Regions from separate parts of the Homo sapiens genome. Here regions 1, 3 and 4 are each linked to region 2. The links come from fine-mapping of genetic effects on gene expression. A gene starts in region 2. Each other region holds a variant in brackets. All regions are shown on one strand. Distances are between the middles of the regions. Region 1 has its middle 38 kb from the start of STIM2-AS1. Region 2 holds the start of STIM2 (stromal interaction molecule 2). Region 3 overlaps STIM2 (stromal interaction molecule 2). Region 4 overlaps STIM2 (stromal interaction molecule 2).

Region 1 (5,129 bases), 38 kb before region 2:
CATGACTTTCTTACTCACCAATTTCGGTCCTTTTCTCAAATAACCCCTTCTCAGTGAGGCCTTCCCATTCCTACTCTAAAATTGCAAACTTCAACATTTTTCTCTCTGCTTTGCTTTTTAATGGACAATAATTACATATAATTGTGGGGTACAATGTGATGCTTTGATCTATGTGTACATTGTAGAAAGATTCATTCAAGCTAATTGACATATCCGTTATCTTAGTAACTTACTTTTTGGAGGATGAGAACATTAAAAATCTATGCTTTTAGCAATTATGAAATATGTGATACATTGTTATTCACTATGGTTACCATGCAGTACAAGAGATCACTAAAACTTATTCTTGCAGTCTGAAACTTTGTACTGTTTGTTCAACATCTTTTCTTCCCCATCTCTTCCCTTCTCCACCTGCCCACCCCTATCCTCCAACCTGGACCCTAGCTTTTGGCATCTTTCTACTCTATTTTTATGAGATTGACTTTTCTAGAGTCCACATGTAAGTTGAGATCATACAGTATTAGCCTTTCTGTGCCTGACTTATTTCGACCAAGCATAACATCCTCCAGTTCCATCATGTTGTTGTGAATGGCAGAGTTTCCTTCTTTTTAAAGGCTGTATAGTATTCCATTGTACATAAATACCACATTTTAAAAATCTATTTATCCATTGATGGGCACTGAGGCTCTTGTGAATCATGCTGAAATGAATGTGGTAGTGCAGATATCTCTTTGACATACCAATTTCAATTCTTTTGGATATATGCACAGAAGTGGGATTGCTGGATCATATGCTAATTCTATATGTAGTTTTTTTGAGGAACCTCCATGCTGCTTTCCAAAATGGTGGTACTAATTTCCCTCTCTCTGTTTACTTTTCACCATAGCACCTACTCCATAAAATATATTATATGTTTAACTCATTTGGTGATCATCTTTACCCCCATTAGACTGTAAGCTTCATCAGTACAGGGATTTGTTTTCACAGCTGTCTTCTCAGTGCCCAGAACATCACCTGGAATACAGTGGGCATATAAAAATATCTGTTGACTGGCTACCAAATGAATGGTATTCACTCGACTCAGCTTTCTGTATCCCTCTGGCCCCTACACTGCATTTAGTGTAGGGATGCATGGGTGCCAATATGGCGCCTGGAAGAAAGGACGTTTGCAATCAAGCATGCACATGAAGAGCAGTTAGCAGTTCCAGACTGTATGAAAGCTTCTCGTGTCCTTGCCACACTTTCTTTTGAGGGTCTCACCCCACATCTTAGCAAAGATATTTAAATGCTCCTCCCTTCCCCATGAAACAGAATTTTGGCTGAGATTTTTTCAAAGGAGTATCATAGTTTTGTCTTTGAAATCATTTGGCAAGGAACAACTCATTGAATTTTCAGTTGGCTCTGATTCTCTGCAGTCATCATGCACACTTGAAGTAAAACAAAATCTACCATTAACATTGTTTTCAAATGTAATGAAATTTTTCTAAATAATTCAACAGTTGATCACATAAGTGTAATTCTGTGCTTTGTGGGCATTCATGTAAACAGGTATTTATTTTAACAGGTTTTGTAGTACTCCTTGTGTGTTTGAGGCAGTAATTATTTTCCTTTGGGATTTAGCCATGTTTCTGGGCTCTTGAAATCTCACAGGACCTAGATCTTGGACCTGGAAAATTAGGCAGATAAAATAGTCCTGCAAGAATGAGAGACTGGAGAAAGGTCTCCCTGCACTTGCCTGCGAATGCAGGTCCTGGCCCAGTGGTTCAATGGTGGGGCTGTCCTGTAACTGTGCCAGGGAGTCAGAAGCCATGGCGGGGCTCACCGTGGTCATGCTGGAAGTCCCTGTCCCTGTCTGCTCATCACACACAGGTCAGCAGGTACCCGTTCTTTATGTGTGGCAGACCTCTGGTGGCCAGGCGGACCACTTTTCTCCACGGCCCTTCTCTCTCCACTTCCACCTGCATGCTCTCCTGAGCCCTGGTGGCAGAAATGTTTTCCTTGACATTTTATGACACTTTGGCAGAATTCTGTTGACTCATCTAAGACAAGATGGGGAATTGTTCTGCAGCAGTCGCCACATGGGGAAACAGATCACTTAGTCACATCATCTGCCAAGCCCCGCTGTTGCCTGTGCAAAGCATTTCTAATCACGGAAACTTGAAAGCTGTCCCTCATTTGTGATGACATTAGCCATGGTGATTTTTTACCCCTGTCTTAAGCTGTCAGTCGCTGGGGTTTTCTTGTTACTCTCTCTGGCAGAGACACATTTATTTATCACACAAAAGCCTGGCTCTGAAGGGATTTGTGCAAACTTCCTTCTGGAGATGAAAAGAAAACATCTCCTTCCTGGCCTGTGCCATCTACTGAAAAGCTTTCCAAGCCAAATGTGAGTGACTGTCCTAGTGGACAGATGTCACCCAGAGCAGGCCTGAATCATTTTGTTTGTTTTTCTTGCTAACCCAACACGACTTTGAACCCACTTCATTAATAAGAGAGACAGGAGCACGAAACCCTTTTTACTTCCTGCTTTCTTCCCAGTGTGCTGACATTTCCAAGCCCCATATGTTTCCCTAAATAAAGTTCCATGGAAATATATATTTTTTTGAAAAATCCTGTTTTTGGGTTATTACAGCCCAAGAGGAAAAAAGGCTGCCAGTGGACTATGTAGGGCCCTTTACGTAATGCTATGATTGTTTCGACCCCTCTTGATAACAGCAGGCTCGTTTAAATGGTTAACGTTGAGATGCGGTTGAAGACCTGTAATAAATGTATACTTCTTCATTTAGGCAAGTACATTAGCTACAGTCAATCTGCAACAGCGGGGA[A/T]GCACTAAGCCACAAACAGGAAATAGTTTGAATAAATATTTCCCATTCTAAAATGAATGACTAGATAGAGTTTAAAACATGTCAGACTCTTGTAGAGACATGATAGACATTTGCTGGTTACCTCTCCAGCAGGGATCCAGTCCCACCCTTCCCCACCTTGATTTTCCTTGGGATCACTCTACCCTTCCACTCTCAATAGTGGTCCAGACCAGACTGACCCTGCCCAGGAGTAGACTGTACTTGACTCAAGCTGTATTAGTTTGTTTCCACGCTGCTAATAAAGACATACCCAAGACTGGGCAATTTACAAAGAAAGAGGTTTAATGGACTTACAGTTCCACGTGGCTGGGGAGGCCTCACAATCATGGCAGAAGGCAAGGAGGAGCAAGTCACATCTTACATGGATGGCAACAGGCAAACAGAGAGAGCTTGTGCAGGAAAACTCCCATTTTTAAAATCATCAGATCTCGTGAAACTTATTCACTATTGCAAGAACAGCGGGAAAGACCTGCCCCCATGATTCAATTACCTCCCACCGGGTCCCTCCCACAACACGTGGGCATTCAAGCTGAGATTTGGGTGGGGATGCAGCCAAAACATATCTCAAACCCATCCATGTACCTATTCCTCAGGCCACATTGATTGGTCAGGGATGGGTTTGTGATACAATTTGGGTTAATGAGAGAGGTGACAATAACAGTGTTTCTGTGGAAGATACACAGAAGAGATTCTCTGTTCCCAGACCACACCTAGAGTGAAGTGAAGATGTGGGGTGTGGAATTGCCAGAGCAATTTGCTACCATGGGGAGAGAGCCCAGAGTTGCGGGGGCCTTTGTGTGGAATCTGGAGATGGGTCTGTCACCAGTGGAGAGATGATAAGAGCCATATCCTGGGTGGCTTTGACCCACTAGAAGCCAGTCTTGCCTCTGGACTTCTCAGCTAGGTGAGCCAATAAATTATCTTTGCTGCTTAAGCTTGTTCTAGGTTTTCTGTCACTTGCAACCACAAGAGTCCTAAGTGATTTAAGGTTGCTAACACTCTTTCTAGCCAGACCTTAGGCAGCATCTAAAGAAACTGAAAGCTTGTCGTCAGTGTATTTTTGTTTCTTTGTTATGGTTTTTACCTCTGCAGGATTCCTCCCCTCTTCCTTCTTTATACAGAACCCCACTGACTCTTAGTGAGCCACCCGGGCTGACTGCCTGACCGCTGGCTCCAGTGATGGGCACATGGCCCAGGCATAACTAATAGGGCATTCCATTCACAGGGCTATTTGATTGGATCAGGGATGGGTGCATGATCCCAAGATGGCCAGTATAAATAAGATCCAGGAATTTATTTTAACTCTTACTTAAAAGACAATTGGCTGGATTTGCTGAGGGAAGATTTAAACATCTTTGTGGACATGTTTGCCACCACATGGGGAGAGCATTCCTGAACATGCAGCAATAGAGAACAAAGACGAGAGATAAAGAGATGATAAGAGAAGGACCAAGTTCTAGCAACAGTGCGTGAGGCCTGAATCCAGCCATGCCGGAAGCATGTGAAGCAGTAACTTCGTTCTTATTAAGACAACTGCAGCTGGATTTTCTGTCATTTGCAGTTTCAAATGTTGACTAACACAGATATGAAGTATCTTTTCACAGTAATATATTTCTCTCTATCATAATATTCTTATTTTCTACTAGTATAAAACTAATGAATGCTCAATGCAGAAAATCCAGAAAACAAACAAACAAAAATAAATAAAGCAAAATTCACTTGTAGTCCTATGACTCTGAAATTATGACCGTCAGCTTCTGAGTGTATGTCCTCTGGGTCTTTTTCGTATGCATATTTATGAACTTCTACAACATAGTTTCCACATTATATTACTGCACTACAATTTAGTTAATTCCTTCTTTTTAACAGTGGGGTCATTTTCTTTCTTTCTTTCTTTTTTTTTTGCTATCATTTACTTCTTAGTATTATGAACATCTGTGTTGATACATCTTTGCACATATTTCTGGACATTCCTTAGAATAAATTCACATGGCCATATGCATAGTAAGTTCTTCATTAAACTTTTTCCAATTTTGTATTCCACATAACATTTAAGCAAACATGTTTATGCATTCCTTTGTATAGAATAAACTTCTAGAAGTACAATTGCTGGGTACAGAGCATGCCTGTTTAACGATATACATTGCCAAACTGCTCTGCAGAAGGTTATTTAAATTTATAACAAGGCAGCTCTTCCACACACACTGGATATTCCTGTCACCTCAATTACTAGACGAATGTTTTCTTTTTATGTTTGTTGGCTAT
Region 2 (4,073 bases):
TTAATTTGTTCGTGGTTTTATACTGTTACTACTGTAACAGTTTGCACTACACCATTTAGCAACTGATTACTACTTTGTATTAGCCTCTAATTGTTTAATGGGTGTACATTTTATCTCCTTAAAAAGATTGTAAGATGCCTTAGTCATGGGACTGTGCTGTTTATCTCATAGCCCTGACTGCTGACTTAATTGCCTTTTTCAAGTGTCTCTCTTGCCTAACCCTCACCACTCAGTACTCTGCCTGGCACATACTAGGTACTCAGTAAACATTTAATAAATGAAATGCCTCCTGGAGAGCAGGAACAAGCTTGTTATTTATATTGTTCTGGTCCCCTAGCAGAATTATCTTCTCTGGTGGGCACTCAGCACTCTGGTGTGACTTCATCGCTGTGCCTTTCAGCAGGGGAAATATAATCTCCCGGTTGCCCTATAAAGAATTGCCACCTGAACACTATGCCCACAAGAAGTCTGCTGAGAAATAACTGTTGATAGATTGACTTAGCCTCAAAGACATCCTTGATTCTTTTCTAAAGTGTGCATCTGCCCTTCCACAATAAACGATATTTGTGGTTATCTTGGCCAGGCTACCTAAGAAATACTTTAGGAGAATGTAATTTGAGTATCTTCTTGGCTTGAGAAAGCAAGCAAACAAACCAATAAGCAGAATGAAACCAACAAAACCCAATAGCAAAAGGATCTTCGTGTTTAATAACCCTATCTGCAAATTTTAAACAATTTTGTGCCCCTGGGAGAAAGAATGCCTCCTTGCGTGTGAATTTCCAGGGCTTTTAATTTATAGTGACAGTACATTCAACACTTCCTTTTAAATTTGAAGGGAGGTGGCCTTAAAAATATGCTGGCAACTAGTTTGGATGAGAAAGATTCCGGTTCTTTATTTATTCAAACCAATTAGACCAGGTCTGAACAGGATTTACAACAGAGAGCAGATCTTGGGTGCACAAGAGCTTTGCTTCATTCCAGGTTGGCGAAAACAAGTCAAGTCTACATCATTGTTCTGTCAGCCGGTTCAGGATACAGCACAGAGTCGATGGGATGGGGGTGGGAAGGTGATGAGTTCAGGTAAATGTACCTAGGAGAGTCAGAGGCTAAAGTAAATTCTCTTAAATAGGCCTTTTCAGTGGCTGCTAAATCTCGCTCATTTCCCATGAATTAGCTGTGGGATATTGGGGACAACTTACTTCACATTTCTAGGTCTTAGTCTCTTCATTCGTAAAAGGGGGTAACGATAATTTTGGAGTTATAGCATGTAAATGTGTAAAACGGTTAGAGCAATGCCTGGTACACTCACACATAGCACGCGCTTTGTGAAATGTTTGGCAAGTAAATAAAACGCTAAGCTATGCTAACCGCGTCTAAACAGCCAGCCACTTGTAAGCCCCACCTATATTGAAATTACGGGGACGCTGCTGTTTTCCGATTGCAAGATTTTCCTGATCCATGCAATTACTTTCGCTGCCCTCTACGAGGCTGAAACTCGCCCTCAGGATGTGGGACGTCTGGACTCTTCTCTCCGTCCCCTTGTAGCCCCCCACTCCCCCTCGCGGTGGTACCGTGAATGAGGGAGAGGTACACGTCCCCCTTCTTCCCCGCCTCCTATCTTCGCGGCTCGCTAAAGCGTTATCAGCCGCCCCACGGTACTACCGTCCGTCTAGGAACGCCTCCGGGGCGGGGCTGGGATGCCGCGCACGCGCAGTACAGCAGCGCCGCGCCTGCGCCGTGGAGAGCCTGAGGGAGGCGGGGGATTGGTATGCGAGCGAATGTGCGAGGGGAGGGAGGCGTCCCGGCGGAGCGTGGTACTACGACCAGCGCGGGCCGGAGGGGGCGGGGGGATGCGCCGCGGCGGCGGCGGCGCGGGAGCTGGGGTTGGTGTTTGGCGGCGCCAGAGCAGCGGATCCCGGTCTCGCCGCAGCAGCAGCGCGGGTGTCGTGCACCGCCTGAAGACGCCGTACCTTTCTACCCCCCACCTTTTTTTTTTTTTTTTTTAAATAACCGGAACCAATGAACGCAGCCGGGATCAGAGCTCCGGAGGCCGCCGGTGCCGATGGGACCAGGCTGGCGCCCGGCGGGAGCCCGTGTCTGAGGCGGCGGGGGCGGCCGGAGGAGTCGCCGGCGGCGGTGGTGGCGCCTCGCGGAGCCGGCGAGCTGCAGGCGGCCGGGGCGCCGCTGCGCTTTCACCCGGCTTCTCCTCGGCGCCTTCATCCCGCCTCGACTCCTGGCCCAGCGTGGGGCTGGCTGCTGCGGCGGCGGCGCTGGGCTGCGTTGCTGGTGCTCGGGCTGCTGGTAGCCGGAGCGGCGGACGGATGCGAGCTTGTGCCCCGGCACCTCCGCGGGCGGCGGGCGACTGGCTCTGCCGCAACTGCCGCCTCCTCTCCCGCCGCGGCGGCCGGCGATAGCCCGGCGCTCATGACAGGTGAGGGGCCGGGGGGCGGCGGGCGGGGCTCGGCCGGCAGCGATGGGACCCCCAACCCGTGCAGAGGTCAGCATCTCCGCCGGACGTCCGCTATTCCGCGGCTCCGGCCAGGGCGCGATGCGGAGCCCTGCCTGCTGCTTCGTCGCGGTCCCCTGCACTCCGGACGTCTTTCCTTTTCACCCCGACACCCCGCCCTCGCCGAGCCTCTCGACGGCACTGATTCCCCTCCCTTCAGTCGGGCTCTCCGATCTTCCAAGCTGAGCAATGCGGTGGTTTCTCTTTCGTGCTGCAGAAGTGCCAGCAGGGTCTGCAGGGGACTGGGCTGATTTTTTTTTTTTTTTTTTTTTTGAGGCTGCTAGAAAAAGTCAGCAGCAGCATTGCGGTATTGAGTCTACCTCTGGTGCTGCTTTTGCAAAGGCAGCTGGCAGCGAGTCTCACCGGTTCAAAGCTCCGCTTGAGCACAGCGTCCCAGGGGAGCCTGCTAAAGGGGATTCTTTGAGAGCCATAATACCTAGTGATATTAGTGGTTCCGTGTTAGTATGCAGAAATGCCTAAGTTTACAGTGCATTTTTTGCGGGGTGGAAGGAGGCCGTTTTAAGTGGTGATGGAAAGTGTTTGGTGGTGGGAGCATCACTGGGTGACAAAGGGTGTAGAAACCTCAGCAGGTAACCAGAAATTATACCTAAAATTTGCAAAGTGCAGCATACTCGGGGCTTGCAGCTGGCAGCACAGTTCTGATAGACTGCACTAGCACCTTTTTTTTAATATATAGAACGATCTCATAATTGAAAACTTGGAAACGTGTTTTGTAAGGTTAAGTGCAGAATTGTATCCTTTTTAAAGCCTTCCGGTGTTATGTACAACTGATCAGTTGTGGTTTAAGTAAAAGTTATTATATAAGGACCCTGAAATGATTTCTTTGGGAAAAGTAATGGAGCTAAAATAATGGTTTTTTTTTTTTTTTTTAGTATTTCACTTATTTTTAAAGTAGATCTGTAGATTTCCTACAATAATTGTAAGACTAAAAAGTTTAAAGTGGCAGAAGATGACCCGTGATTAATTTAACCAAAATGATAGTCCTGCGGGCGTCTGGAAGTTACTAACAGCTTCTCTGACAAGTGCTCAGGAACTGTATTCTTTAAAGCCAAGCAGTTTCTCTGATTTCTATGATAGGATATTTACTATTCTAGAGAGAAGAAGGATGTTGGTAAACTTTAAAAGCTTTGGAGGATGTAGAGTATAGAACATAATGGTCAGCATGTTTAACTTTACCCTGAAGCATATCAAGCCCTATTAAATGGAACTTGATACATCAAACCTACCAATTGGGTAACTGGGATAAAGTGATTATAGAATAATCAGTATTAGGAGCATAGTACAGTTTGAGTGAGAAGATAGGTCAGACAGCTTTATGCTTGAATAGTATTTATTCTCCAAATAAAAATGTGGCAAGTAACAGTATAGTGAAGAATAGTGATTATTAGGAAAGTTGATAAATAAGACTATAATTTGAAGATTTAATGCCTCATGCAGGAAGGGAAGGAGCAGGAATATTTAGGCTTCTAGAAGGTATAAGTGGTTCTAGGTTTCTCGAGCAGAAAAATGTGGTTAATACATAATTGGCTAATGCTCTGTGAAAAAG
Region 3 (4,000 bases), 70 kb after region 2:
CTTATATGAGAAGAATAATATTAAATATCTAATTTGAAAATATTGATTACCTGTTGGAGATATTTTAGACATATTGGGTTACATGAAATATAATATTAAAATTTACTTCCTTTGTTTTTACTCAGTGTAACTTCTAGAAAACAAAATTATGTATGTAGCTCACATTTTATTTCTATTAGCACTGATCTAGGCTCTGTGTGATGTGTTTGTATGCTTTAAAGGATGAATTATTAATTCTGCAGTTCTTGTACTATAGTCCTTCAGTTCAATATAGGTGCATTTTGGTTTGTATTTCTTGTTAAGGTGTCTTTTTGAAAGAAATAAGCAATAATTATTTTATGGACCTTTACTGGCCTTCACTAGGAGACTTTATACGTTTGATAGGAAACCTTAGCCCAAATTTTAAAGTACTTAATTTCTTGTGATTTTAGCCCAAATTTTAAAGTACTTAATTTCTTGTGATTTTTGTTTTGTTTTGAAATGTTGCTTTTCTAAAAAAAATTCAGAAAAGTATTTAGCATTTGAAAATTCTGTTTAAAAACTTATTTTTTTTTCTCTTTAGTATCCTCTGTTTTGTATTTGGTCATATGAAAAATTCTTTATTTTTATAATTTATTTAATATTGAGCTAATATCTGATGGCCTATTTTATACCAGATACTCAAATAGTTGCTTGGAATAGATTAGGAACAAGATAGACAAAATCTGTGCCTTTAAGTGAACATTCAGGTAGGGCTTGTGGGAAGGAGACTAAACAAAATAAGTAAGCAGGGGCAGGGGGATCATTATCAGTTAGAGATGATGGGGGCTGTAATGTTCTATAGGGTGGCAGGCAAAGTGAGGGTAACACTTAAAGTGTATCATGTGTACAGTACTTGGACAAATAAGAGAATAAATGTCTGATAACTTTCCAGGGCTATGTTAAAACTGAATTTGGAGTACTTTGGGTGCTTCAGATCAGGAATAGGATATAAAGCTTTTGCTGTCTAGGTCATCATCTTCTGGACCAACATAAAAAAGGTTAGATGTCAATGTGTGCAGAATCTGTGATCTGTTAAGATTGAATTGTTGATTGCATTCAAGGCTGCACGGTCTGTCAATTTTAGTGAAATTTTGGAAAGTGTAGGTATTTGGTCAACAAATAATTTAAATAAGAGAAATTAATGGTTTTGTTGCCCTGAGCACAGCAGTGGAGTTCACATTGTTATTGCTCATTTTGTGACTGAAAAGTTTTATCATAGATTCTAGTGTATATGAATTTTGTTTTCTGTTCTTACCTTTCCCTCTTTTTCTTTGAATGAACATTTTTTTCATTCCTTTCCTTGTTCTAGTTTTTCTTTGTTTTTATTTATTCTTTTTCATTTTACCACCTGGAATAGGTAGTTTTAGAGGTTTTTTTTTATCAGTTTGTTTGATATACATATATAAAACAAAATCAACTTTAAGACCTACTTATCTGAAAAGTCCATTGTACCTAGTATTTCAGTATTCCTTATGTTACATATGCTGCCTTCACAATACATTCTTTGCCATGATTTTTATACCTGTTGGAAAGCTTAGTTAACAACACAGATGTGTCTGTGGAGAGTCACTTAAGAAAATAGGCAAAATTAGGATTAGACAAAAAAGAAGGCAATGCATTTTAAAATTGAACAGTGTGTTTTGAATTATGTGGGGTATTGTGTCCAAAAGATTAAATACATATA[T/A]TTTTTGCTGAAGTTTTCTAAGGTTAACTTTTAACTTATGTGTTAGTTTATTGCTATGTAACAAATGACCCCAAAACTTAGTGGCTTAAAGCAACACACATTTCTCATTTCATGGTTTCTGTGGGTCAGAAATCTTAGTGCAGCTTAGGTGGGTCTTCTGGCTCTGGGTCTTTCACAGGGCTGCAATTAAGATATCAGCTGGGGTTGTGTCATCTCAAGGCCTGATTAGGGGAGGATCCACTTAAAAACCTACTCATATAGCTGTTAGTCTCAGAGGTCCTCAATGGCTGTTGGAGATACCAGTTTTCTGCCGTATAAGTCTCTCTGTAGGCAGTTTATAACATGACAATGGGGTTCCCTCAGCCCACTGTTTCACTCTCTCAGAGTGAGAGGGAGCTCTGAGAGAAAGAGAAGGGGCAGTAATGTGGACGTCATAATCTTTTTGTGACTAATGCTGGAAGTGACGTCCCATCACTTTTGCTGTATTCTACTCATGGGAAGTGAGTTACTAGGTCCAGCCAACCATCACGGGGAGACAAATACAAGGATGTGGGTATCATTGGGAGCCATTTCAGAGACTGCTTACCACAGTTTATTTTGATAATTTACTAACTAGAAATATTTGATGGGAGATTCTCAAGCCATAGAAATATAGAGTATAAAAGCAGTAAAGTTATAAAATTTCCTTTAAAAGGCTTTGTTTTGGAAATGTCCCACAATAAAACCCATTGTGTTCATCTTTGTAATAGGATATGTGTAGAATTTTAAAGCCTGATTAAAAGTTATCTATTGAGTAGAGCTTTGCAGTGAATGGTGACTCTAATTACATGCACAAATGTACCAGTGTAATTTGTTTGACTGAAGGATCACTTGACATTCTTCTGAAAGAACAAGCAGGGCAAAGGGAAGGGAAGGGCATAGGTGCTAGAGAAGTCTTGCTGTCTATTAACTTACAGTTACTGAGGTACTTTCCTATATACTGAAATTTTCATAATTTCATGATTTGTTTAGTTAATATAACGATACCATAAAAATAGAGACTTTAATTCTTTCTGGAAAATAATGGCAATCAGCACACAATTAAAGTAGCAGAGAATGTTAGTAAGTGTTTTATGGGAAAATGGATTACGTGGTCAAAATTGGGAAATGCTGGATTAGTTTTGTAGGACTTCTTAAACTTAAATTTATAGATTTATATACTAAGATAACATTTATTGAGCATTTACTATTTGTTCCATCGTATAAGCACTTTTGTATGTACTATGGTATGGACTCCTTATAACAACTGTATTAGCTAAGAATCTACTCTTATTATCTTATATGCAGATGAGGAAACAGTTTGGTGGATTAGGCAATATGCCCATAGTTACAAGCTTGTAAATGATAGAGTTGAGGTTTTGAAGCCAGGCCAACTCCAGAACCCATGTTCTTGACTTCTAGTGTTTCTTGTTTCTCTGTGTTAATGTAGATTATTAATCTTCAAAGGATGGTGAATCTTAACGTCTGTTTGACAAGGAACTTTTGTAATACAAACTGTCTCTTAAGTTTGGCATAATGTAAGTGGTCAGTCGGTTTTTGTTTGAGTTTTTTTTCCTGAAAATTGATAATTGCTACCAAAATAACACCACACAGATTTTTCAGTGACTTTAACATAACTCGTTAGTACTGACACTAAACTTACTGTAGCATCTGATCAAAGATAAAGTCATTTTAGCAATTGATAAATTGAACATCGTTTGCTAAATTTGATGCTTTTGTTTTGCATTTATTAAATTTTTCATGGTAGTATATCTTGGCTATAAATGTCTAAATAGTACTTAATAAGCATCTAATAAATGTTTGTTTAACGAATGAATATTGGAAAATCAAACTTTTGGAATGGCCTGGGCCTGTAAGTGACCATGGAGAGCCCATGGTGATCATGGGTTAGGAGCACTCTCTGGAGCTAAGCAGCAGCAGCAACTGCTTAGTACTTGTCAACAACAGAAAAATAATTAAGAGCTGAAGAAACTAACTTCGGTTCAGCAGTCTTTTATTGAGCACCTATTGTCTGCCAGACAGTGTGCTAGATGTTGGCTTTGCAAAGATAAACAAAGGCATCTGGTCATTTCATGGAAAAAACACATAACGACTTGTCCTGAAAGAACTGAGAAGTAATAAAGAATCAATGTGTACATGAGAGACTAGAAGTGAGAAAAGACATGAGAAAGCAGCAGATTAATGCTGGTATGATCTGTGGATATCAAGAAAGTAAGGCAACAGTGGAAAACATAAAAGAGCTTGTGGGAGAGTGAA
Region 4 (4,000 bases), 30 kb after region 2:
TCTTTTAATCACAGAGCGTGAAAGTAATTACAAGATCTCTCGTATTCTGGACTTAGTCTTTCATACCTCCATTGTATGGTAGCAGTTGAATTTCTTCTTAGTAACCAGCAACCCTGGTCAGTACACTAACCCTGGGTCTTCTTTGCCTGTTCATTCTGAGGCATGAGGAGTTCAAAGTGGCCAGGTGGTAGTCTTAATGTCGGTTCAGTGGAATCATTCTATCTCCCAGTGGAAACAGTCCTCTTTTTGGAAATAAGGCCTCTAGACCAGCAGAGGATAAGGTTAAAGAATAGGCAACAAAAATTTCGCTAGTGAAACAATAGGGATAATAGTGAGTGGCCCCACTCTTATTTCTCTCTCTGGATTCTGGGATCCATGAATCCTGGCCATGGGAGAAATAGCACCATACATTGGATGCTGATTTAGAGCATACATAGCCTCATGGAAAACATTGCACAAGTTTTTGTCACCTTGCTGACAACGTAACTGAGTCTTCAAAAATCCATTCTACCATTCTATTAAGCCAGCTGCTTCAGGATGATGAGGAACATGGTAAGACCAGTGAATTTTATTAGTATGGGTCCACTGTTACACTTCATGTGCTGTAAAGTGTGTTCCTTGATCAGAAGCAATGCTGTGTGAAGCACCTAGATGGTGGATAAGGCATTCTGTGGGTTTGGCAGAATGCTTGCATGCAGGGAAGAGAAATCCATATCTAGAGTATCTGTTGTAATAAGAACAAAACAGTGCCCCATTCATGATGGCAGTGGTCCAATATAATCAGCCTTTCATGAGATAGTTGGCTGATCACTCTGGGGAACGGTGCCATATCAGGGACTCATTATTGGTTTCTGTAACTGGCAGATTGGGCCTCATTAGCACCTGTAGCCAGGTCGGCCTTGGTACATAGAAGTTCATGTTGCTGAGCCACCTTCCTCCTTCCTATGGCCTCTTCGTTCATGACAGAAGTGGCTAGGGAAAAAAGCTGGCTGGGATCTGCAGAATGAGTTATTCTATCTACTTGATTATTAAAATCCTGCTCTGCTGAGGTCACCTTTTGGTCAGCATTCACGTGGGACACAGATTCCTTCACATTTTTTGCCCAAAGAGGTCTATCTACATTATTTCTCCAGATCCTCTTGTTACCATTTTCCCAATTATGTCCTTCCAATTCTGTGACCATCTAGCTAAACAGTAGGCCACATCCTATGAATTGGTGTACACGGTGGCACCTCTGGCCATTTCTTCTTCCAAGCAAAATGAGAGCCAAGTGTGCTGCCCAAAGTTCTGTCCACAGGAGAGTTTTCCTTCATTACTATCCCTGTCCCAGAAAGGCAGTTAGTGCTACAGCCATCTGCTTTGTGATGGTTTGTGCATATTGTCCACAGTCATCTGTAAACTAGGCCCACTTTTTTTTCTTCGGTCAACTGATAGTAGGAAACTTCCCCTGAGGTCATAGGTGTGGGCTGGGAGAGAGAAGGGAATGTGGTAGGAATGGGGACCGTGGGCATTTGTACAACTTCTTCATATAACTTACTTGAACCTTCAGGGCCTGCTTGATCTTGATCTGTCATATTCCATTTTCATTCAGTGATGGAGTACTGCCATGCATGCCCCACTTTATGAATCGTGGGGCCAGATAGCACCCAGTTCATAATGGGCAGCTCAGGTCTCATGGCAACTCCTTGGCACATTGTTCAGCATTTAGTCTCTAATAAGGCCCCGTAGCAAGCCAAAATCTGTTTCTCAAAAGGAGAGTACTCGGTGGCTCACGCCTGTAATCCCAGCACTTTGGGAGGCCGAGGCGGGTGGATCACGAGGTCAGGAGATCGAGACCATCCCAGCTAAAACG[T/G]TGAAACCCCGTCTCTACTAAAAATACAAAAAATTAGCCGGGCGTAGTGGCGGGCGCCTGTAGTCCCAGCTACTTGGGAGGCTGAGGCAGGAGAATGGCGTGAACCCGGGAGGCGGAGCTTGCAGTGAGCCGAGATCCCGCCACTGCACTCCAGCCTGGGCGACAGAGCGAGACTCCGTCTCAAAAAAAAAAAAAAAAAAAAGGAGAGTACTTTTCCAGAGAGGATGGCAGAGCTTTGCTCTAAGATCCTAAGGGTCTTCACTCTGATTAACCTATATGAGCCTGTCAGTAGAGGCTTCACACAGAAGCTCTATCTGCCTCTGAAACTTGAAGCACTATTGGATCTACTGGATCACATGTCCCAAGTGGCACAGCAGCTTACAATGGCAGCCTAGTCTGTTGCAAAGCCTTTTCTTGTTCTGGGCCACATTCAGAACTAATAGCTTTATAGTTCAGTTTGTGTGATGGATAATTTTTTGTGTGTGTCAACTTGGCTGGTCTGTGGTGTCCAGTTGTTTGGTCAAACACTAGTCTAGATGTTGCATGAAAGTAATTTGTAGATATGATTAGTATCTGTAAGTAGTTATGCTGAGAGATTGCCCTTGATGATATGAGTGGGCCTTATCCAATCAGTTGAAGGCCTTAGGAGCAGAAACTGAGGTTTCCTGAAAAAGAAGTATTTCTGCCTTAAGACTGTAACCTAGACATTTTGCTTGAGTTTCTAGCTTGCTAGCTTGCTCTTGTGACAGAATTTGGACTCAAGTAAAACATAAACTCTTGCCTGCACTACAGATTTCAGACTTGTCAGCCTGTATAATCTTGTGAACTAGTTCCTTAAAATAAATCTCTATATTTATACACATATATGTGTGTTTGTGCATGTATATATACATATAAAGATATGTGTATACATACATACACACACACACACACACACACACACACACACACACACACCCCCTTTTGGTTATTGGTTCTGTTTTTCTAGAAAACCCTGACTGATACACTCAGTAAATGGGCTAGAGTAGCACACCCAAATAAGGAATATGTTGCCTTCCAAATACAAAGAGGCCTACTAGACATTCTGTCTGTCTTGATTTTAGGAGGGACTAGCTAAAACAACTTTTACTTCACATTAGAAGGGATATGTCAACATGTACCACATCACTAGACCCTTAGAAATTTCACCGAGGTGGAAGGCTCCTTGTCTGTTCAGGTGATGTGGGTTGGCTCTGTGTCTCTACCCAAGTCTCATCTTGCGGCTCCCATAATTCCTATGTGTTGTGCGAGGGACCCAGTGGGAGATGATTGAATCTTGGGTGTGGGTCTTTCCCATGCTGTTCTCATGATAGTGAATGGGTCTTGTGAGATCTGATGGTTTTAAAATGGGAGTTTCTCTGCACAAGCTCTGTCTGCCGCTATCTGTGTAAGATGTGACTTGCTCCTCCTTACCTTCTGCCATAATTGTGAGGCCTCCCCAGCCATGCAGAACTGTAAGTCCAGTAAACCTCTTTCTTTTGTAAATTGCCCAGTCTTGGGTATATCTTTATCAGCAGCGTGAAAATGAACGAATACATCAGGCTTTAAGAAATTACCAAAGACTGCGTGGCTTAAACATCAAACATTTATTTCTCACAGCTCTGGAGGCTGAGAAATCCAAGATCAAGGTGCTGGCAGATCCAGTGTCTAGTGAGGGCACTCTTCTGTTTTGCGGCCATCTTTTTGTATCTTCATGTGGTGGACAGCAGAGAGAGCGAGTGAGCTCCTGTTTCATAAGAGCACTAATCCTATTCAAGACGGCGCCACCCTCATGACTGACAGACCTCCCAAAGGTCTCAATTCCTATTATTACTTTGGGAGTTAGGATTTTAACATATGAATTTTTTTGGGGGGGGACGCATATATTCAGTCCATGACACCCCTGGATTTTTGTCTTACTCATTTCTTACCTTCTGACATGCATATGTTTTACCAATAAGCTTAGAGTAATTGCAGTTTCTTGCTCACTAGGTCCAATTAGCATAAGGTCATGAATATAATGGGTTGTTGTGGTGTCTTGTGGAAGGGAAAGTTGATCAAGGTCTCTGGATTAAATTATGACGTAGGGCTGGAAAGTTGATATAACCCTGAGGTAAGAGTGAAAGTGTA

The links. PIP is the estimated chance that this variant, and not a neighbour inherited with it, causes the effect.
Region 1: its variant is fine-mapped to the expression of STIM2 in whole blood (TOPMed, PIP above 0.99). The same link has a PIP of 0.9 or more in monocytes.
Region 3: its variant is fine-mapped to the expression of STIM2 in whole blood (TOPMed, PIP above 0.99).
Region 4: its variant is fine-mapped to the expression of STIM2 in whole blood (INTERVAL, PIP above 0.99).

What each region holds. Positions count from the first base shown.
Region 1 is chr4:26,819,926-26,825,054 of GRCh38, forward strand. It overlaps a transcript of TBC1D19 not described here. Among named protein-coding and RNA genes, the nearest start is that of STIM2-AS1, 38 kb to the right of the region's middle. The variant A/T (reference allele first, on the strand shown) is at 2,826.
Region 2 is chr4:26,858,939-26,863,011 of GRCh38, forward strand. It overlaps STIM2 (stromal interaction molecule 2), which reads left to right and starts at 1,903. Exons shown (of 12, transcript NM_020860.4): 1 at 1,903-2,431. The coding sequence starts at 2,281. It overlaps STIM2-AS1 (STIM2 antisense RNA 1), which reads right to left and starts at 1,661. Exons shown (of 2, transcript NR_134674.1): 1 at 1,572-1,661; 2 at 686-1,090. RefSeq lists an enhancer at 1,460-1,559 and silencers at 1,650-2,019, 2,030-2,599.
Region 3 is chr4:26,929,085-26,933,084 of GRCh38, forward strand. The region is part of intron 2 of STIM2 (stromal interaction molecule 2); the gene reads left to right. Among named protein-coding and RNA genes, the nearest start is that of STIM2, 70 kb to the left of the region's middle. The variant T/A (reference allele first, on the strand shown) is at 1,706.
Region 4 is chr4:26,888,790-26,892,789 of GRCh38, forward strand. All of the region lies in intron 1 of STIM2 (stromal interaction molecule 2), which reads left to right. Among named protein-coding and RNA genes, the nearest start is that of STIM2, 30 kb to the left of the region's middle. The variant T/G (reference allele first, on the strand shown) is at 1,853.